Homo sapiens: one gene and its partners. The protein of the gene in region 1 interacts with the protein of each later gene in a pairwise test. Each region holds a gene or a part of one and is shown on either strand. Other genes may lie near its edges.

Region 1 (7,340 bases):
TTTCACCCTACAAGGGATGGGGAACTCTGGAAGACTGGCATCAGCCGATATGGCTGAACAGACTGCAGGTTTGGAATCCAAATGTGTCTACAAATGTTCACTGATTGATTGTCATTTTGTTCTCCCCACATTTTAGTTTTGCTCATTTTACAGCCCACAGCCTGTCTTGTGGAATAAATGATACAAGCAATTGAAGAAGGCACACTGTGCACCAAGGGGACGACTCAGGCAATCTGCAGCGGTGGTCCAGGGCTACTCAGCTCAGCCTCAGTCACCTGCAATGAAAACCACCTCTTGCCATCAGAGTCAATGATATAGATGGGACACTTAAAAACCAAAACAGGTTCATATTCTCTGGTTTGTAGGAAAGAATTCATATCTTCACAGCAAAAATAAAAAAGGAGGGGGCATGTTTTTAATATCAAACTGGCCATCAAAGTGTTCACTGACCTTTAATAACTGATCTTTTCATTTTGAAATATAGGGTTCAATAAGGATGGTCCAGAAATCACTTTTATTTTACTCAAGGGCTGTGAGGCCTCTACCTTAGGAGTCTCAGTTCTGGTGAGAGCAGTGTTTTGGGAGGCATTGTGTGAGACACACCAGTTGGAGCAAAGTTCCCAAAGGCCAAGGGGGCCTATCACAGTCACCTTGTGCTACCAAAGCACTGAGCAGCCAAGCCCCTAAGCAGAACAGCAGGGGAGAGACCCAACAAGCCAGTGTCCCTAGAGCTCTAGGCCATTACCCCCTGTGCTGTGTTCTGAGATGAGTCTGCTCTCCCACTGCTTCCCCAGGGAAACAATGCCCTAGTGTGGTCTCACAGCCTTCTAGGAATCAGCGGAGGACTTCCATTGAAAATAATGGAAATTCACATTGGCGTACTTTCGATCCTTAAAAGGCAAGTCTCTTTTGATCCTTGAAGATATTCTCTCAAGCCAGGGGGGCAGGTAGGGTGGGGAGGAGAGAAGTTTAAAAAGGAGGATGATCCATTTCATCGAGCCAAGAGCCTGGGCTAGTTGGAAAGTCGGGATAGCCTACACTGCTTCCTGTGGAGATGTCAGAGGTGGGTCCCCCAGCCATGGCTCTCAGCGTCTGGCTTACTCCCTGCCCTGCATGCGCAATGATGCCCAAATTACTGTCCACCGTGTAATCCAGCCCATTGAGCAAAGGAGCGTGGGATGGCAGGGACGATATGGAGGATGGAGACTGGGGGATTCCATAGGGGCTCCCATCCCTCAAGTCCTGATAGGATTGTCCTGTCCCGTCCATGGAGAAGCTCCCATTCATTAACTGTCCGCCTGTAACGTCCCCCACGTTGCCATAAATCCTATTGGTGTGGCCAAGTTCTGAGAGAATTTGATCCTCTGTGGACAAAAGAACGGAGATTTATTGTCAGCTGCCAGGACTCTGATGGTCCCCTGCTCTTCACAACCTAGGAACACACATGACCAGGAAAGATGCCCAAGGATGGCAGCTGCCTTGCAGCCAAGCATGGGTCAGACACACCAATATGGCAGCCTGATATCCAGAGGCCAACCCAGGCCAAGGAGAAAAACAAGAAACACCTGCAAAGACTAAATTCCCAGGTCCCAGAAGGATGGACAAATGTTTGGTGAGCTCGTTGGTCCCTTGTGGCTCGTGTACTAATACTCTGGCTACACTGAGGAGGATGAATGCCTAAGGCTGGGTGGGTCAGATGTCTCCACATCACAAATGGAAACTACATGCTGACAACATTTACCCTGAAAGCTTTCAAGCTGAGAAAGGGCTTGGTTTAGTTGATTGGGAAGCAAGCAGGCCCATATGGTCAGGGAAGCTGAGGACCACTCTTAGACATCTGTACAAAATCCTTCTGGTCTATCTGGAAGAGAGGTTCAATATCAAAGGACTTGGTTTCTGTCTGTATTCAATAAGCTCTTCACTGGGGACAAAGAATTGACTTGATTAAGGCAAATGAACCTTCTTTTTTCTTAAAGAATTTCATTAAGGGGATCTAATGGAATCTTTGCCACTTGAAAGAATTTCTCTCTCCAACAGAGGTGAGCAGTTTTAGTCTTTGAGAAATTATTCCCAGAGAAACCAATGATAGGTCAGCCCAGGGACCCACCTGCACCCAACAGAAATGAGCTTAACAATCCAGTATGTTCTAGGTGTTGACTTCAACAGCCCAGATGAGATTGACTTTCCCAATCCTGCCAAGAAGCCTAAAAGGTGAGTATTAGTCCCATGAGCTGTCCCCAAGGCCTCACGGGCCCTGTGTTCTCAGAGGAGGCTGCCCTCTAGGGCTCAGCTGACCTCTGGGCTGAACTAGAGTCCTCCCAGGGCATCGTTGTCCTGGCAGGCAACTTGTTCCATCCTCTGTCCCACAAACTTCCTTTTCTATTTCCACCTGGGCCTCTGCACCAATCCCTAAATAAGGCCTCCCCAGACTAGACTTCAACACCCCATCCCTTCTGAGGCCTGCCCCCCATTCCCCTTATGAAAAAACATGGTGGGGGGAGCTCATGCTCTTTAAAGGGAGCAGGAAGATGAAGGCTCCACTCCATTGTCAAATGGCCATGAGTTAGCCTTTTCCCTATACCTGTCATCCCAAATGACCAGGGCCCTCTGCGGGAGCCACACGCTCCCTGTGGGAACGATCATGCCTTCCAGGTATACAAATGTGCCAGGCTTTCCCCAAGCACATCCACAGTTGGTTGTGTTCATTGATCCCCACAACGCAGTGAGATGGGCAAAGATATGGTATTCCTCTTGGGAATACTGGGGCTCAAGAGAAGTGAATCGATTTGACAGAGCTGCACTGGAAACCAGGTCTCTGATCGCCAGTTGAGTACTCTTCCCTTTCCCCCTCCGCAGAAGACCTTCCACATTTGAGAACTCAGTACCTGAGAACAGTTATGATTCTTTGCAAACAACCTGAGGATTCATAACATGCAGTAATTTACAATTTTGCTGATGCATGAATTTGAATATAGTGCATGCTGCAAAGCTTGTGTGCAGGGGACAGAATGAAGTGAGTGGTGGGGAAAGGGATTTCGGAAGTGAAGCCAGTTCCCCATCTCACATGCACTCACAGTACTGATTTCCCAGGAAAAAACCTGTGGAGCATGACCTCCCCACCACCAGGACTGGAGGAAGGGGTGGCTCTAGGGGACTATGGGAGTAGGCCAGTGTCCCAGCAAAGGGGACAAAGATGGGAGAGGGGCTAGGGGCACAAGGCTGGAACCCAGTCATCTGTTCATAGCTGTGTGGGCTGATGAGGGAGGCCCCAGTCAGCAGGAGGGGAGGGGAGACCTTGGGGCCACAGGACGGGGCCTGGCCCATCCCAGCTTCCAGACCTCAGCAATCTTGTTTCCTACTCCTGTCCCATGGTAAAGGGCCACTACCATTTCCCCCACCCTTCACTGCAAGTCTTAAGGAAAAGCCTGTGTTCAGGAGGGAGTTGCCAAGGCCTCAAGAAAGATCCCTCCTGAGTGCCAGGGATTACAGATTCCCAGGGGACTTTCCTAAGGCCTCGGCCTGGCCCCTCCAGCCCTGCTCACCTCGGAAGCTCAGCTCACTGTCACTAACCCCACAGTCCTCTGCAGAGCTCTCCTTCTCCTGCTTGCTGCTGCCCCGGCTCCTCTTGACGCTCTTATAGAACTGCCCCCAGCGGTGCCGCCCTGCATCCTTCTTCAGGCGTTTCTCTTTGGCCCTTCTGTTCTGAAACCAAACCTGCCACACAAGCACAAGGGACATACTCAGGGGGCGTCCACCACAAACCCAAAGCCCCCAGGACCCCCTAGGCGGGCGGCTGGAAGCAGACTGAAGCCTGAATGGAGCACAGGTCTGGGAGTGCGATGCGCCCCACCCCCTCTCCCCAGGTGGGCCTCAGAACTCTGTCTTCAGTTCTGGCAAAAGCCCTGGGGTCAAGCCCTGAGCCCAACCACCCGTGAGCTGATGTCACTCAGGATACCTTCCACCCCTGTCCCGGGCCTGGGATCCCCGGAGGGCACAGGAGTGCTGGCATCTCACCTGTACGACCCTCATGTCCAGGCCTGTCTCTGAGGACAGCTGCTCCCTCACGTGCCGGGCAGGCTTGGGGGAGTTCTTGTATGCATTCTTTAATGTCTCCAGCTGCTTGGCTGTGATGGTGGTCCGGGGCCGCTTAGCTCCAGCCTCTGAGTCATCTGCAAGGAAAAACCACTGCTTACTGGCTTCGGCCTATCTGCAGCAGCTGCGCCTCCTCCCACACCCTCCCTTCCATCCTTTCTGCACCTAAGCCTGCCTGCTGTAGGCAGGACAGCGCGAGGCACAGGGGACATCAGAGTGGAGAGGTCCCCACTCTCATGGCACTGACTCCTGCACCACGGGCCTTCCCAAGCCACTGAAAAGTGAGGACAGCAGTCCTTTCTCTGCTCAGCTCCCTGCCTCAACCCTCCCCTGCCAGCCCAGCTGCACAGAAGTCTCATCAGATTGAATGTACCCAATTCCACACGTCCCTGTCATGACAAACACTCTGCTCACACATCCTCATGAGTTCTTGCCAGAGCTGTGAAGGTGAACAGCCAGGTTGAAGTCATGTTCAAAGTCGCCCCAGATGCCCTCCCCTCTGTCTCATCAGGAGTCTCCCATTTCCCCACAGCCATGTCACCTTTGCCCTGGCGTCGCTGGGCTCACAGCCAGGGGTGAGCTTGCACACCCAACAGTGTCTAAGCAGGTTTCTAAACTATAGGTCAGAACCCACTCGTGGGCTGTAAAGTCACCTTAGTGGATCAAAACTAAAACAGGAAATCAGATGAAGAGAATGGGATGGAATGGCAAGATCATTTCATTAAACTTTAGTTTTTATTGTATAAATATGTGTACTGAGATGAAATGTAAAATGAGTTTTACTGTGGATTGTAGTCAAAATTTTTTGAGAAAACTAGTCTAAGGAATGTTCTGGGCAACACACTGACTGATCAACACAAAGTCCTAGACAGATTTTGAGTGAACAAGCTCAAGTTCCTGTTAGTTAAAGTCTGGTTTGTTCCATTCAAAGTCAGGTACAGAGAGAGGCGCGTGCGTGTGTTCGGAAGCACAGGTGAATGTAAAGGTTTGTTTCCTCTCCCAGCACTTAGGCATACTGCCCTTTTCTCCACAGTGCCCCTGGAGGACACACGGAATAAAGTCAGCAGCTGGCCTGGGCAGCTCTGCTCTCTGTGCTTGCTCACCTGTGTGCCCCAGAAGGTGTCTCTGTGACATTCCTGACTTCCTCTCTGTCTTTTCTCCTTTCTTTCCATTCAAGAAAACCCTCTCTTAGAAACAATAGTAGCCAACATGTGTTAGCACCTACCATGTGCTGGTGTTGACTAAGGACTTTATATGCATTCGGTCCTCACAATCTACAAGGCTCTCCCTGGAGTCAGCAGACCTGGCTTCAGTGTTCTTGATGAGTGAGTGACTTGGGCCAGTAACTCACTTCCCCCTTGGAAGTCCAGAGGGCAACACGGCCTGCCCTGATCTTGGGAGGCACTAGAGGAATGAAGCAGCTGTGCAGCCAGGACATGTGTGTACACAGTGAGGGGGGACACACCCGTGCCTTCCCTTCTCCTCGGGCTGTTTTCTTCTCTCACGTGGCCACTGTCATCCCGGAACTACTGTGGCCCAACTCCCTCCCTGAAGCCCTGAACCCGAAGGGTAGGGATTCCGGAGCCCCTGCCACAGAGACTACACTACTTAGAGAGTCATTCCAAAAGACAAAGGGGAACCTCCAAAATGCCTTCCTTTTCATTCTGAGGAGTCTGTCCCTTCTGTGCATATTTATAGTCTACACGGGAGTGTCTGATGCAACTTTGAATTATGCAAATGGGAAATAGTGCACTTGTGTACAATCTTTATATTAAAAAATGTGAAATAATGCAATCACCAAAAATGTTTTAATTTCTCGAGAATCACTTAATTTCAAAATAGCTTGGCCTACGGAATTATAAATTCTTTTCACCACAGCCAGATGGTAGCGCCACTGGGATAGACCCGTCATCCTGGTTGGTGGCCCGCTGGTTCGGCACTGCTACACACACAGGATTTTCTTCTTGCAATGATGGGGACTAATATGCTGTTATTTTAACATTCACTGTTATTATAATTTAAAATCTTTTTTATATCCCATAACAATGTCATCCAAGTATTCATTAAGTAGCAGTGGCAGTGCTCGTGCTGAAAAATGTACCCAAAAATCAATAACTTTGGTACGGAAGTTAAATGTGACAAAACGCTATGAGGAAGGCCAAGGGAGCCCATGATACCCTGGGCTGTTAATTTAGGAGAGAGCGTTCTGCAAGGTATTCAAGATAATGCTGAGAAAATAAAAAGTAGCATTAAGGCAAAGATACACTTCACTGGTTATGGATTTATGTGCTCTCAGAATATACCACCCCCCCCCCCACACACTCTACATTAATTCCTACAGGAAAATTAGTCTTAAAATATGTTAGTTTTGAATGATGCAGGGTCTCCTAGAACTTGTCCCTGGCATAAAACGCAACCTCATTATATTGAAAATGCAAATATCCAGGGAGACGGAACAAGTGAACAAAATCATTCACACTAAGGTGCAAGTAACTGCTCTGAGATCCTTTGTTTAGCTAATGGGAGGGAACTGTAAGCCTGCAGGAGGGCTGAGAGTAGCAAGGAGGAATTAAAACAACCTGAAAAGACAGCCAGGCATTCTGCAGTGGACAGAACTCCCCGCTGCTCCAAGGATCACCGATTGCCCAGGACAGAGGAGCCCTGCCTTGCTCACAGCCAGGGTGGGGTCAGGAAAGGACCCGGGGAACAGGCCAGAAATACTGTGTAACATTCCGCTGCTTTAAAACCTCAAGCACACCTCACCTCCCTGTTTGCACTTCTCCTCCACGTCAGTCTCTTATTTCACATCCCATTTCACAAGCCTCATCCTATTTAAACCTCAGGAAAACAGCCCTACGTGGCAGATGCTATGATCCTCCATAGACAGCTGAGAAGCCGAGGGTCAGCCAGTTCTACAACTTGCCAGGAGATCTCCCTGTGTGGGGGGATGCCCAGCCAGCTTCTGACAGCAAGTCCGGCATCTTCCATCATCCTGCAGAGGTCTGCTGTGGTGCAAATATTCCTCGATAAAACTGTGAGCACCACAATGTCATTCCCACCTCCCCAGCCAGATTCTGACCAATCTACATCTGTTTCTCTTGTCTCTTGAACCACCCACAACATCAGGAGATGCTGAGCTGAGAGTGCTCAGAGTCCAAATGAGGCCTCTGATGAGAACCAGCTGCAGGCCGGGGAGGTCGTGCCATCTTAGTATCTCTGATGAACGGCACTAGACTTCCAAAGGTGTC
Region 2 (7,268 bases), on another chromosome or scaffold:
CCTGATGAACTGTCTGAGAGAAAAAAAATATATGATGAAGAAACTGCTGAACTCTCACAGTAAGTTTCTTCTCATAAAAAAAATTATGAACTACTACCCTTTAATAGTAAGGAAAAACCTCACCGCAAGCTGGATCCTGTCTTTAGTTCATCTCAGTCTAGTCAAGAAGTATTGGTCTGTTTCCGTGGTCCTCAACAGACAGAATCTTATAAAAGTTCACTTGGTAACATCCGGATGTTTTATAGGGAGTTATTGACTCAGCTCTGTGGGCTGAAGCAGTATTTTGGGCGGGGGAGGAATTTCCTACAGTGCCATCAGGCAGTGGAATGGGAAATAGAGAGGGGGCGCTGGTGACAGTGACATTGGTGGTGATGGCGGCTCTCATGTGTCGTGGTAGGGCAAGAGGAAGGTTGAGGGTCAGTAGCCTAGATTAGCAGGGGATTTTCTGTCACATGGAGGCCCGGAAGGGGGCTTTCCAAACTTTGAGATCTGAGATTGAAATTGGAAGAGGGGTGTTCAGGGCCAAATCCTCAATTAATGAAGATACTGACTGGGAGCACAACTGAGTTGGTGTCGGGAGGGTGAAAATCTCGGAGGCAACTTTGGGATTCGGTAAGGCAGGCCACTCTGCAAAGAACACAGCAGCTGATGGAGCTGGGTAGGCAGGGCCAGGCATTGCTTGTTGTCCCTTTTCTGTTTTTCTTTCCCGTTTTTCTCCCTTTCTTTTCCCTAAATGTCTTTCCCTCTTGTGCAGTCACTTGGGTCTCTTTAAATTTTATTAACGGGTTTTTAATTTCTTTATTTCTTTTACTCTCTTTTAATTGAACACACTAAAAAACAAAATTATAATTTGTATATGCTGTTTTATTTAACAACTTTTTGTTTCCATTGATTTTCAAAATATAAATTGAACATTTTGTATGTCACTTTCTAAGAAAAGCTGTGCTTGTAGACTCCTTTATCAACATGTGCCCATCAGATGTCTTCAGTGAGCCAGGTGCCTTCCACAGAAGAAAGATTTCCACTCTTTATAGAAATAGATATTGATTTGTCTTCTCACAGAATTGATATTTTATTGTGTGGTTTATAAAATGATATGACAATTATGAACCTTTCTGATCAGTGCTGAAGCATCTAGATTTAAGAAAACTGCATTTCTGCTTTTGAAAATTTAAACATGGTGACACAACCAGCCAGCCCACGGAAGAGTGGTAGACTCAAAGGACAGAGGAGGGAGACACACAGAGAGCTGCGCATTGGAGAGAAGAGAAGCGACAGGGTGTCCAGCTGCTTACTAATGGGGCTGTTTCTTAAAACACATATTTTAAACATGTTTCACCTTATGTTTATATAAGTAATTGATGGTCATTTTGAAAAAAACTCAAAAATACAAATGAGCTTTTAAAAAAAGCCATAATCTGCAACTCAAAGGGAATCAACTATTGGCATTTTGGCATACATATTTCCAAACTTGAATGTAGTATGTATAAATAGGCTTTAAACAAAGATGGGATCATGTTATTCATGATCAGTATCTAAAACCTGCTCCTCTCATTAATATAAGCATTTCTTCTAATTCAGTTCATACACATCATCTTTTAATGGAAACATAGTATTCCGTTTTATGGATGTACCATAATTGATCTTACTAGTCTCCTCTTTATGATTCTACAATTTGGTTACTATCCACATTGCTACAGTGAACATTCATATAGCACTTGCCTGCTTATGTCTGAAAATAAGCTGGTTGGTTCCAAGAACATGAACATTTCCTGCCAACAACGTAAGGTTTCTGCTGTCTGTAGCCATGTTCTTTAGCGTGCCTGTGCTGTTTCAGAGTGCCCCCATGCTGCCATTTTTCCCATACCTCAGACAGAACTGGGCATTGCCTTTATCCTTCTCTTTCTTTCTACCAATCTGGCAATGAAAAATGTTATATCATTTTAATTACTTGGAAAAAATGTTATCTCATCAAAATATGTTTTCTTATCCTTGCGTTTGAAAATAATGGCTGAGAATTTTTAAGTATTTGCTCTTTGTTGTGGGAGTTCACTTTTTCTTGTTATCTAAGAGTAACTATGAGTGTTTGGGATAAAAGGTATTTATTGTCATGTTATAAATATTTAAAACAGATTTTAATATAAAATATTACTTATAATAAATTCTCTTGATTCATAAACATACTTAGCTCTGTAAGATAATCTGGTGTCTTAAAATTCAGTTTACTCTTATAAATAAGAGGATCACAGCAGATTTTCAGTATTAATATTTCATCAGTGTGAGCTTAGTGAACGGGGTGCTGATTCTTGTTCTTGCCAAGAATAAAAACCACCTTATTTAGAACTAATTCTTTTTTTGCTTTACATTAGTTCATTACTGTTATAAACCTCACTCATTTTTTGTATGTGTTCGGTAATATTTTTCTTGTATGAATTCTAATAATTAAACTGTTTTTCCCTTAGCTTGACCAAGAATGTTCCAATATTTGTTTGCACTATGGCCTACCCCACTGTGCCTTGCCCTCTCCATGTATTTGAGCCAAGATACAGATTGATGATTCGAAGAAGTATACAGACTGGAACCAAACAGTTTGGCATGTGTGTCAGTGATACACAAAATAGGTATGCTTTTTGTGAACCTAAATATTTGTATTTATGTTAGACCTCTCAATATGGATGAGAACTTGCATGTTTATGTTTCAACTTTGTTACTAATCAAGGTTTTCTTTTAGTTTTGCAGATTATGGTTGTATGTTACAAATTAGAAACGTGCATTTCTTACCGGACGGAAGGTCTGTGGTTGATACAGTTGGAGGAAAGCGGTTTAGGGTTTTAAAAAGAGGAATGAAAGATGGATATTGCACTGCCGACATTGAATATCTGGAAGATGTTAAGGTATTTTAAAATGTGCTTTGCCAGCATACTTTCGTATATCCTGTTCCAGGGATTGGTACAGGCATGCAGGCTATTTTCTAGGTGCATGAACCAGTTCTTATCAGACAGCCTTACCACTGTGATGAGAATGTGCTCCAAGTTACCTTTTTCGTATCTTGCTCTGAAACTGTTGCACATTCTAAGAGAACTTGGAAGACTAGAACATAGATTCTCTTTATTTCTGCAGGCTTAACAACCAGCCCAGTGCCTAGAATGTATGTGTATATGTACACATGTGCATGTGTGTATACACGTGATAGGTACTTAACAATAGTGGTTGAATAAGTTGAACTTCCAACCCATCTAAGTTTTGAAAGGTTTACATTTCTGCCCTGTTTTATTGAATGTATTAGTAGTTGAAGCCGATGGAATTAGTAGATTGAAATTTGATGTAAATGTAAACACATCAAATCTTATAAGAATTGTTTTATATATTAAGATTGTTCTTGTGCCTAAGATAACCTTAATGATAAAATAGAGTTGAATGCTGTGTGAAGACCCTGGGGCAGACATAGAAAGCACTGCCAGTGTACATGTTGGTGATATCTTAACAGGGTAGGGTTTTTGTGATGTCTTTCTAGAATAGGGTTAATGTGGCCCTTTTGATGTTTGCAATACCCAGTTTACCTACTGCAGTTAGTTTAGGAACCGGAAAAGTGACTTATGATGCTACAAATACCAAATTGAAGGCAATTTCTTTTGGAAAGGCATTATAAAAACATAGATCTTATCCCTTCTCTTATTCATTGATCTGTTTAGGCCCTTCATTTCGTCAGCATTTATTGGATATTGGCATTAGGTATTTTCACAAACATTAACTCATAGAATTTTCACAACTCTATGAAATAGTAGATGAGGAAAGTACAATTCAGAGGTGTTAATTAATTTGCCTGAGAGCCTATAGATAATGTAACAAAAATGATTAAAGCAAACTGTCTGACTCAGACTTTGAGCTTTATCACTATGCCATTTGGCTCTCTGTTGATAAACCTGATTAGTCTGACGTTGGCAGTCCTATCTTATTATAAAAATGCTATGGGGGTACTTTGTCTTGTGCAGTTGGCCGAAAGTATTGTGTGAGTTGAAATTTTGAGTTGATTGATAGAATCTGTGCCTTAGGCATACTTGGTTAATGGAATCACTTGCTAAAGGTTCTTCTTTGTAAAGTTAATAACCATATTTCAGTTTTGTGTAAATTTATGTCTTCACTTATTGGATTTGATGACAAAATCACTTGAGTATATGGCTAAATTACATGACTATATGTATTAATACTTACAAACATGTAGGCAATAGAATCACATTCTAAAAGTATTACAGATATGATATTTATAAACGAGTCCTCTTTGGTCCTCGGAATGTCTAGTAATCTTTTCTCATCATGTCTTCATCTATATAATGATTTTCTTGTCCATTCTGGAAAACCTTCTCAAATTTGTTTTATATGGCAAATTTTCCTCTTCTTATAATAATTCTGTTTTCTGTGACTTCTAATGAAATTTTAAGTTCTGTTAAAATTATCACAGTAAAGTTCCTTGACTTTAAAAGCTTGCTTTTAAAATGGAGCTGGCCAAAAAGCAGGCAGAGACTTTAAAAGCGTCTCTGCCTGCTTTTTGGCCAGCTCCGTTTTTCATCACTGACGCTTATAATTGTTATCATTCCTTGTTTACCAGAGCCTGTCATTTGTTTTCTTGAATTTTGTGAGGGTGCAGAGCAGATGCTTTAAAAAAAAAAAAAAAAAAGATTTAACAAGGCATAAGTTTGTTTCTTGCTCCTATCAATGTATGTTAGCAGGGGCCTGAATCATGTATAGTCATTTCAGGACCAAAATTCTTCAATTGTGTGGCTCCTCTACCTTTTTTAAAAGTTTATTTTTATTGTGGTAAAATATACATAGAATTTACCATTTTAACCATCTTTGAGTGCACACAGTGGCATTAAGTACATTCACATTGTTATGCAAAAAACAGATGCTCTTTAAACTTTAGTTTTCATTTCAAATCTTTCAAAAGTAAAAAGTTTGCTTTTTTGTCTCTGGTGTGCTGTAGTCTTATTTTTATATTTCGAAATGTTTTCAGAGTCCCTTTGTTGTTTTTAAATGAGTCATCCTTGAAGTATGAAAGGCTGAGTCAGGCCTGGTATTTTTTCAGATGAGTTTGTGCATATGAGACAGAGCACGACCTGGCAAGTAGCAAGTGGGATGTAAGTGTGCATTAAAGAAATCAGTATAAGATGGATGAGTTAAACTTAGATCTTCCCACCTGTGTTCTCTGAGACTACTCTTCTATCTCAGGCTGGAAGCCTGATGCAATTAATTTTACATTTGCAGTTTGGTGACCCAGTAGTCTAAAGAATACACTGAGGGGTTCCAGAGGTAGCCATAGCCTTGGGCCTTGCCAGCAGAAGCTCATCATTGTGTAATTGACTCTCTGACATACTGGCTTTATATGCTAACTTATTTGTTGTAGCTTTTTGTTTGTTTTTGTGTTTTGACCCAGTTCCCTAGTAAAAGATGTAACTGTGCCTGGACTCCTCCTGTTACTACTTTCTGTCATGTCATCTACACCCTAACTACTTATCTTTTCTTTTTTTGTAGCAACTATCATCCACTTTTTTGTTCCACTGCTTTCAAAAACCATTGATCCATAAAGACAAATGGAATTCCAAATTAGACCTCTGAACCAGAACTCACTCTCAATCTTACTCTTCCCACTTGAGGGCTGTTGTAGGGTTCTGCAATATTGCACTGCTAAGTCAGCAAGGTTAGGCATAGGTCAGGCCTTGTTGTCTTTCTTTAGTCTGGTCAGCCCTATATGAGACAGAAATGTGTATTAAAGCATAGGAATAATACTCTCTGGGACGTCAGCACTGAAACAGGTATTGCCCTGTTCTTCTGATCCCTTTTTCCATTTGTGTCGGTTGGCATATGGCATATGGACGGGGGATTAGACACAGAAGTCTTACTGACTATTGTATTTCTAGGTTGAGAATGAAGATGAGATTAAGAATCTCAGAGAGCTTCATGATTTGGTTTACTCTCAAGCCTGCAGCTGGTTTCAGAATTTAAGAGACAGATTTCGAAGCCAAATTCTTCAGCATTTCGGATCAATGCCCGAGAGGGAGGAAAACCTTCAGGTATGGTGGCTTTTCTGTTCTTCCAAAAGTCACTTTTTTATAAACCCAAATTTGCACACTTCTACATTTGTTTTCTCATTGTCCTTTCTGCACTACTTTTTCTTTGACTGTCCCCTCCCCCGCACCAGCCCCACCTCATCTTTGCAATCATGAGTTCTCTAGAGCAGTGGTCTCCACTACATTCCGTACAGATAGAGGCTGGAAATACGTGTCAGCTGAGATGCCTGTAGGAGAGAGTGCCAGAAAGGGAGCAAGTCCTTAAGAGGATTTTTAGGAGTGGGTAAGGAATTAAAAACGGGATGTTACTATCTAGAAACTGTGACTGTGGGACAACTAACCATGCCTTTGAGCCCATCGCCTGTTGCTGTTATTCTTTGACAGCAGAGAGACTTACCATTTTCTATACATTTGAAACATCTTTTCTCACCTTTCTTTGTATCTCCCAACATTTGACCCAACCACTTCAATTCATTTTTGTCTCTTCATGTTTAATACCTCGCTTCTCATGAAACTATTATTCTTTTAGTCTTGCAGGTACTTAGGGTTTACACTTAAGCTTAGTCTAATGAATGTGTATCTGGCACTTTCTGTGCAAGCAAAACTGCAGGAGGCATAAAAGAAGGGTCTGGCTCCTGGAAAATCTGATCATAGACTTACTAAAGCACTACGTTTTAGGCATCGTAGCATTTTGAATTGAACTAAATGTTTTTGATCAGAAGGTGATAGATTTTACAAAGGAATGGCTGTCAGTAAATATGTGAAGATGGAGAGATAATAGATCTCATTGTAATGCACACTGCCTCATTCCCGTTTTCAAGGGTTGGTCTACATTTGTCTGAATCCCAATTGAATCCTTCACCTGAACTTGAAACACCAACATTAGGCCATCTCCAAATTTAGTATTCATTCTGTTTAGCATATTATCAGTTGCCATCTATTTGTTTTAACTGATTACTTGAATCTGATTAAACATCACAGAAATGGGCTTTGATAAGAACAATATTGAATAAGAAATTTTAAATAACAAAACAGCTTATAGAAAAATTCAGCATAACTTTTCCATCACCTTCACCACCCTTGCCTTTTATTATCCTGTCCTGTATCACTGCTTTCTGTTAGCAGTGTTGTGTGAGTTAGGATTTGGGCAGGAAAGCAAAAGCAACCACCCGTCATTTTCCCAGAATGAAGGGTTTGACGTAG
Region 3 (7,597 bases), on another chromosome or scaffold:
GGCCTGCACCACCATCCCTGGCTGATTTTTATATTTTTTGGTAGGGATGGGGTTTCACCATGTTGGCCAGGCTGGTCGCAAACTCCTGAGCTCAACTGACCTACCAGCCACGGCCTCCCAAAATGCTGGGATGACAGGCGTGAGCCGTGGCGCCCAGCCTACATTTTATTTATTTATTTATTTATTTATTTATTTATTTATTTATTTATTGAGTCAGAGACTTGCTCTGTCTCCCAGGCTGAAGTGCAATGGCGCGATTGCAGCTCACTGCAACCTCCATCTCCTGGGTTCAAGTGATTCTCCTCCCTCAGTCTCCCAAGTAGCCGGGATTACAGGCACCCGGCACCATGCCCAGTTAATTTTTCTATTTTTGTAGAGACAGGGTTTCACCATGTTGGCCGGGCTGGTCTTGAACTTCTGACCTCAGATGATTGGCCCACCTCAGCCTCCCAAAGTGCTGGGATTACAGGCATGAGCCACCACGCCTGGACTTTTTTTTTTTTTTTTTTTTTAATGGAAATGAGGTCTCATTATGTTGTCCAGGCTGGTCTTGAACTCCTGGGCTCAAGTGGTCCTCTCACCTCAGCCTCCCAAAGTGCTGCGATTACAGGTATGAGACACAGCCCCAGCCCTATTTGTATTATTTATTTTGAGACAAAATAAATATATCTTAGGATGAACTCTGTCACCCAGGCTGGAGGGTAGCGTCGCAATCATGGCTCACGGCAGCCTCCACCTCCCGGGTTCAAGCGATCGTCCCACCTCAGCCTCTGGAGTAGCTGGGACTCTAGGCACATGCCACTACACCTGGCTAATTTTTGTACTTTTTGTAGAGACGAGGTTTTACCATGTGCCTAGGCCAGTCTCAAACCCCTGAGTTCAAGCGATCCACCAGCCTTGGCCTCCCAAAGTTCTGGGATTACAGGCGTGAGCCACTGCACCTGGCCCAGACTTCTGTCTTAACTACTTTCCCTTTTCTTTCCCTCAGTGAGCTCTGGCTCCAAAGAGTCTCTAGGTATTGAAGAGCTCTTCACATGCATGCACCCCTGCCCACCCCCAGGAAACATGCCTGTGCAGTTTTCCATTTTAAGTACTTACACAAGCTCCCTAGCTCTGGGGAAAGAAGTAAGGGAAATTAACCACTTATTGAGACCTGAGTCTGTGCCAGTCTCCATTATATTTTCTTCCTCAAATATACCTCACTGACTCATGGGTCCTGTGGTCCTGGACCTGTGCAGGTAACATGGCAGGGTATTGTCTCAGATTATGAAGTGAAAAGGGTAGAAGGTGTTGAATCTTTTCTCTCTTTCTCCTTACCCTTCTTAATCTTCCCTCTCCCACTCCCCATCACCCGCCTTCCCACCACTTAATTTCTCTTGTTTGTTCACCCTAAGATATATATTTCTGGGACTCTTGGTTTAGGGATGCTCTTAAGAAGTCCCACACTAGGGAGATGCAAACATGTCCTACCTCCAGTGAGTTCCATGATCAGCTTGCTGGATTTCCTCTTCTTATTAGGGGCCGGGGTTCCTGAGAGCGGCATTGTGGAGGTGGATTCAGCCTGGACAGGGTGGGAAGGAGGAGTTGGTGGATGGACAGGGACTGGGAAGAGTGAGTGTCTGTAGGAGAGCAGCACTTCTTAACCTGGGTTTAAGGGCTTGAGGGGACAAAAAAATTTTTTTTTCTTTTTTAGAGACAGGATCTCACTCTGTCGCCCAGGCTGGAGTGCAATGGCACAATCATGCCTCACTGCAGCCTCAACCTCCCTGGGCTCAGGTGATCCTCCAACTTCAGCCTCCCAAGTAGCTGGGACTATAGGTGCGCACCACCGTGCCTGGCTAATTTTTGTATTTTTTGTAGAAATGTGGTTTTGCCATGTTGCCCAGGCTGGTCTCAAACTCCTGGGCTCAAGCAGTCCTCCTGCCTCCCAAAGTGCTGAGATTACAGGGGTGAGCCACTTCACCTGACCCAGATTTTCAAAGAAGCATGTATTTCCCCAAAAGGTGAAAACTTGCGCTTTAGGGCTTCTCTTTTCTTGGGATACAGGACAGGAAGTATAGATGCACACCAGCCCCTGTTGTCTACCAACCTGTTGTGAGCTGTTTTTCATAGAGTCAGTGCAGGAATTAGGAACATAGCTAGGTGTGGGGAGTGTTTAAAAAACAATAACACAAGCAGGGCAATGCACCCAGGTTTCATTGGCTTGGCATGATTTGAAGTTTTTATTTGCACTGGGATATCAGACTGGGGCTGTGATTCCAGGCTCTGGTCTCTCCTCAGTCTTCCCCCAGTCCCCAGGAGGACAGAGAAATATTCTGCCAGGGTTGAGGAGATTCAGCCAAAAACACTCTCCATAGGAAGGAGAGGTTGTTGCTCCTTCATCAGGCCAGCTGGAACATGGCCTGGGAAGTCATGGCCCTGCTCCTGCAATCACTCCCGCCACAGACCCCAGAGTGGAGGCAGGTGTGGAACTGGGAAGGGTAGGGAGCATTCAAATCCCGACACGTCAATTCAGCAATATCATAGCAGTGGGGAATTGAGGTGGGGCAGAAACATAGTAATAGGATCTGGCAATGGAAAGGGACAAACTGGGATAAGATGGACTCCAATCCCTTCTTAAGAGAAGTTGGCACTCAGTGAAATGCTGTCCTCTTCTAAGTCCTGTCTCAAAAAATACATCTGCAACTCTACTGACTTAGTGGGGTCTCCCTTCCCATTCTTCCAGTGCCTCCCCCGACATCTCCATTCCCCCCAACCTCCTGGGCCCCTCTCCTTCCAACTCTCCTTCCCCTCTCCTTCCAACTGGACAGCTGGGAGCTGAGCATAGATGAGGAGAGGGGAGACTCCCCCAGGATCAAGAATCACAATTGTAGACACAGACACAGAAGTCAACACAGTGGGCTCCAGCCTTTCTAACGATAGAGCTGGAGACTTACCGGCTGCTCGGGCAGTGGTCAGCTCTCCCTGGGGTCCAGCAGCTTTGGAGGACTGAGCTGCTGTGACCGGAGAACACGAGCTGGGCAGGCGTGGGGGCAGCACTGGCAGTGGGGGAGGGAAGTTGGTTATTAATAGAGATGATGAGCGCAAGCAGCTCAAATGGCACAGGGGGTACTGAGACCCTGGAACCAAGATCCCTCCCTCCTTGCCCGGAGGCTCAGGAAGGAGGGAAAAGGCCTTTGGGATTCTCCCACTGAACTGTCTGAGCCAGGGATCAGTCTGCCCAGGGACTCCCCTTCACATTGCACCTAGAGCCTGAGATCCAAAGAAGCACTTAGGGAGAAACTGAAGACTGAGAGGGAGACAGGAAGTAGACAGCAAGTATTGGATAGGAATTCAGTCAGAGAGAGAGAGTCTGGGGAACATGCCCTGAGGGCCACACAGAGCCAATCCAGGGCAGAGTGGAGAGACCTGTGGGTGTATTTGGAGCAGGGAGGGCTTAAAGTGCTATATTTGGGGACAAAAAGGGAAGTCTTCACAGTGGAACTGCTCTTTTAAAGTTCCTGGATAGGTTGGTCTTTTCTCGGTAAGGGCTAGATCTTGGCAGGTTAAGGGACCAAATTAACTAAACCCAGTACCTCCTACAAAGGAATGATGTGGGGAAGACTTGACAATTATTCTGTCTGCCTCACTCCCTATTCTTTCCTCTTGAGCTCTGGCAGTTTTAATAAAAGACAAACACTTGGATCTGCATTTTTTTTTTTTTTTTTTTGAGATGGAGTTTCGCTCTTTTTGCCCAGGCTGGAGTGCAGTGGTGCGATCTCGGCTCACTGCAACCTCCACCTCCTGGGTTCAAGCAATTCTCCTGCCTCAGCCTACTGAGTAGCTGGGATTACAGGTGTCCACCACCATGCCCGGCTAATTGTTGTATTTTTAGTAGAGACGGGGTTTCACCACGTTGGCCAGGCTGGTCTCAAACTCCTGACCTCAGGTGATCCACCCACATTGGCCTCGCAAAATGTTGGAATTACAGGCGTGAGCCACCGCCAGGATCTGGTCTCTAAGGAGTTATTCTCTAGCCACCACGCCCAGCCAGGATCTGCCTTTTAACCTCCATTTGCTGTTGAGATGCTCAGTTCAACCTGCTGTGCGGGATAGACATCGATGTCTCCCTGAGAAGCACATATAGGCTCTCTGAGGTTTCTTTTCTTCTTCTTTTTTTTTTTTTTTTTTGAGACGGAGTCTCGCTCTGTTGCCCAGGCTGGAGTGCAGTGGCGCAATCTCGGCTCACTGCAAGCTCCACCTCCCAGGTTCACGCCATTCTCCTGCCTCAGCCTCCCGAGTAGCTGGGACTACAGGCGCCCACCAACACGCCCGGCTAAATTTTTTTTTGTATTTTTAGTAGAGATGGGGTTTCACCGTGTTAGCCAGGATAGTCTCGATCTCCTGACCTCGTGATCCATCCATCTCAGCCTCCCGAAGTGCTGGGATTACAGGCTCTCTGAGGTTTCTACTTGAGATTTCCTGCAAAGGGAGCACATACCACATAGGATCTGGACTGTGCCATTTGTACTGTTCCAGCGGAGTCTCTGGGCAGGGCCACAGGCTTGAAAGCCCCTTTGGGGAAAGCCTATCATTTCCCCAGGCCCTTCTTCAGTAGCTGCATGATCTTCCTCCACCTTCTGCTTAGATTCTGGAACCAGTTGCTGCAGCACTTCTGCTGCAGCCACCACAACCCTGTTGCTGCTACCTGAGGAAGTGGCTTTATTTATTTATTTATTTATTTGAGACAGGGTCTCACTCTGTTGCCTGTGCTGAAGTGCAGTGGCACAATTTTGGCTCACTGCAACCTCAGCCTCCCCAGGCTCAGGTAATCCTTCGACCTCAGCCTCCCAGGTAGCTAGGGCTGCTGGTACATGCCACCACGCCCAGCTAATTTTCATATGTTTTGTAGAGACAGGGTTTCACTATGTTTCCCAGGCTGGTCTCAAACACCTGGGCTCAAGCAATCCTCCTGTCTTAGCCTCCCAAAGTGCTAGGATTATAGGCGTGAGCCACTGTGCCTAGCTGGCTTTTTAAAAAATTATTTCTTTCTTTATTTTAGAGATGGGGGTCTCACTATGTTGCCCAGGCTGGACTTGAACACCTGGGCACAAGTGATCCTCCTACCTCAGCCTCTGAGTAGCTGGGACTACAGGCACGCACCAGGAAGTGGCTTTTGTAACTTCCTTTGTCCCCTTCTGAGCTCTTTACTCTTCCTGACCATGTCCTTTTTCCATCCTGTGGAGACCCTAAAAGGTATCCCCTCACAGTTGGCTTCTGCCCAGGCTAGTTATGCCTCCAGACCCCTCATCTTTTGTCCTCCTCCATCCCCTCCCAACCCAAGGAAGCAATTAGAAGATAAAATAGGCCGGGCGTGGTGGCTCATGCCTGTAATCACAGCACTTTGGGAGGCCGAGGTGGGTGGATCACTTGAGGTCAGGAGTTCAAGACCAGCCTGGCCAACATGGTGAAACCCAGTCTCTACTAAAAATACAAAAACTAGTCAGGCATGGCGGTGCGTGCCTGTAATCCCAGCTACTTGGGAGGCTGAGGCAGGAGAATCACTTGAACCCAGGAGGCAGAGGTTGCAGTGAGCTGAGATCGCACCACTGCACTCCAGCCTGAGCCACAGAGGGAGACTCCATCTCAAAAAAAAAGAAGAACTATAAATAGCTAAAGGTGACTTCATCATCACTACCACCCTCACCCTCAAAAACAAAAACAAACTGAAAGTTTGATCTCCTTCAACTGAGTACCCAAAACGACTGAGTGGGTGAAGACAGGCTATTTAACCTATGGTCTCTGAGATCTTTTTTTGGAATTCTAAGACAGTGCACTTGGAAGAGTCTGCGGCCTGGGTCTGATTATTGGCACAAATGTGCCCTCTGCTGGCAGAATCAGAGCAATGGCACTTTCCTTCTCTGAAGTCTAATTCTCACCTACCTCCAACGCCCTCCCTTCTTTAGTAGTCTCAATTCAGCTTTATTCTTCCCTCTCCCATCCCACCTTCCCCTCCAGCCCTCCAGCCATTGCTTTCTCTTCATTTACTTCCCAGAGACTGTTTAATATGGTTGCTTCCTCTAAGGAGCGAGGAAATGTTGATAGCAAAGGGCTCAGAGGGCCTTTCCAACTTCTCTGAGTTCTGTGAACTGAAGCCTTACCTAGAAAGTATGAGGCAAGGGAGGGAAAGGGGAGAACTTGGATGAAGACTGTGGGGAGAGGGAACCAAGAAGAGTGATGGAGGTGGCTAAATCAAAGCAGGACAGAATTTGTATAAAAGAGCAAAAGACCTGGGAACAAAGGGCAAAAGGATGAAAAATGGGAGGGCAGGAAAAGAGACAGATCAGAAATCAGATCAGGGGAATGGGTTAAAGAAGATTAAGGAGAGATCAGGATTTAGGAATAAAACTAGAAGATAACAGCAACAGAAGGTATGGGGCATAAATTTATTCTTGTGCACAAACCAAAGTATTGTGACTCACACCCAACAAGCAAAGGAAATTATCACTTTCCAGATTACACAGCAAACGTAGCTGGTGGTGGTCTTGGTGAGAAGGGAGTCCATACTAAGATTGGAGATCAGGACCTGAAGCTGAAAAGAAGCAATAGCTGGGGTTTTGAGGGATGGGGTGGGACTGAAAGGAGGTTTTGGCTCTGGGTATTTCCCTACTCTTTCCCAGGCAGTCATGGCAAGCTGCAGAAGACACACTGAAGAACAGACTCAAGGAAAATCACACAGACACCAACCGTTCTTTCAACACTCAGCACACACCCTCACACCTCCCTTCCACCATCATTCCCTTCCATTCTAACATTCTTCTCCCTCAAATTTTTTTCCAATCCCCCTCTCACACACGGTTGGTTTCTTGTTACTCAACTTTACCTTCTCCCAATATGGCATTGTCCCTCGCCACACTTCTGTCTGTGGCTCAATCACTTACACTCATTTCTGCCATGCTTCTGATTTTGGCCTCACTTGCCACACTCTGGCTCTCTTCTCCTTTCTCTCAAGCTCATGAGGCAATGAAGCCAATGATTTGTTCATTCTCGGAGGGAATTTTCTTTCTTTTTTTCATTTCCTGGGTACTGGGTTGCTCAGCACTGGCCTCTCAAGTTGCTAACTTTTTGAAATCCTGAGGTATAGAATTCTTTGTTCTATTCCTGGTCTAGCTGGTATAACTCAGCCCATGCAAACTGTCCTGGCCCTTCAGTCTTTTCATGCTCCATAACTTTCACAAGATGCTGTACACCTGCTACAGACATTGGTCTCTAAGGAGTTATTCTCTAGTGAATCTCTTTCTCCCACTCAACTCCATGTGGGGATATCTGACCCTTCTATCAGTACAACGATAAGACTCAGATTGGGTCTTTTGTTTGTTTGTTTGTTTTGAGACAGAGTCTCGCTCCGTCGCCCAGGCTGGAGTGCAGTGGCGCAATCTCAGCTCACTGCAAGCTCCGCCTTCCAGGTTCATGCCATTCTCCTGCCTCAGCCTCCCGAGTAGCTGGGACTACAGGCGCTCGCCACCACGCCCAGCTAATTTTTTGTATTTTTAGTGGAAATGGGGTTTCACCGTGTTAGCCAGGATGGTCTCGATCTCCTGACCTCGTGATCCGCCCG

Evidence for each region.
Region 2: the proteins of LHX4 (region 1) and LONRF1 interact in binary tests that used the Homo sapiens proteins (3 or more experiments, as listed by UniProt).
Region 3: the proteins of LHX4 (region 1) and MYOZ1 interact in binary tests that used the Homo sapiens proteins (3 or more experiments, as listed by UniProt).

Annotation. Positions count from the first base shown.
Region 1 is NC_000001.11:180,268,209-180,275,548, reverse strand, and holds part of LHX4 (LIM/homeobox protein Lhx4), read right to left. Parts: intron 5,897-7,340; exon of another isoform or gene 4,170-5,896; coding exon 4,015-4,169; exon of another isoform or gene 3,715-4,014; coding exon 3,543-3,714; exon of another isoform or gene 1,365-3,542; coding exon 970-1,364; 3' UTR 1-969. UniProt on the Homo sapiens protein: May play a critical role in the development of respiratory control mechanisms and in the normal growth and maturation of the lung. Binds preferentially to methylated DNA.
Region 2 is NC_000008.11:12,724,527-12,731,794, reverse strand, and holds part of LONRF1 (LON peptidase N-terminal domain and RING finger protein 1), read left to right. Parts: coding exon 1-59; intron 60-2,462; coding exon 2,463-2,621; intron 2,622-2,731; coding exon 2,732-2,894; intron 2,895-4,490; exon of another isoform or gene 4,491-4,563; intron 4,564-5,915; coding exon 5,916-6,068; intron 6,069-7,268.
Region 3 is NC_000010.11:73,638,475-73,646,071, forward strand, and holds the start of MYOZ1 (myozenin-1), read right to left. Parts: upstream 3,001-7,597; 5' UTR 2,937-3,000; intron 1,562-2,936; 5' UTR 1,544-1,561; coding exon 1,471-1,543; intron 1-1,470. UniProt on the Homo sapiens protein: Myozenins may serve as intracellular binding proteins involved in linking Z-disk proteins such as alpha-actinin, gamma-filamin, TCAP/telethonin, LDB3/ZASP and localizing calcineurin signaling to the sarcomere.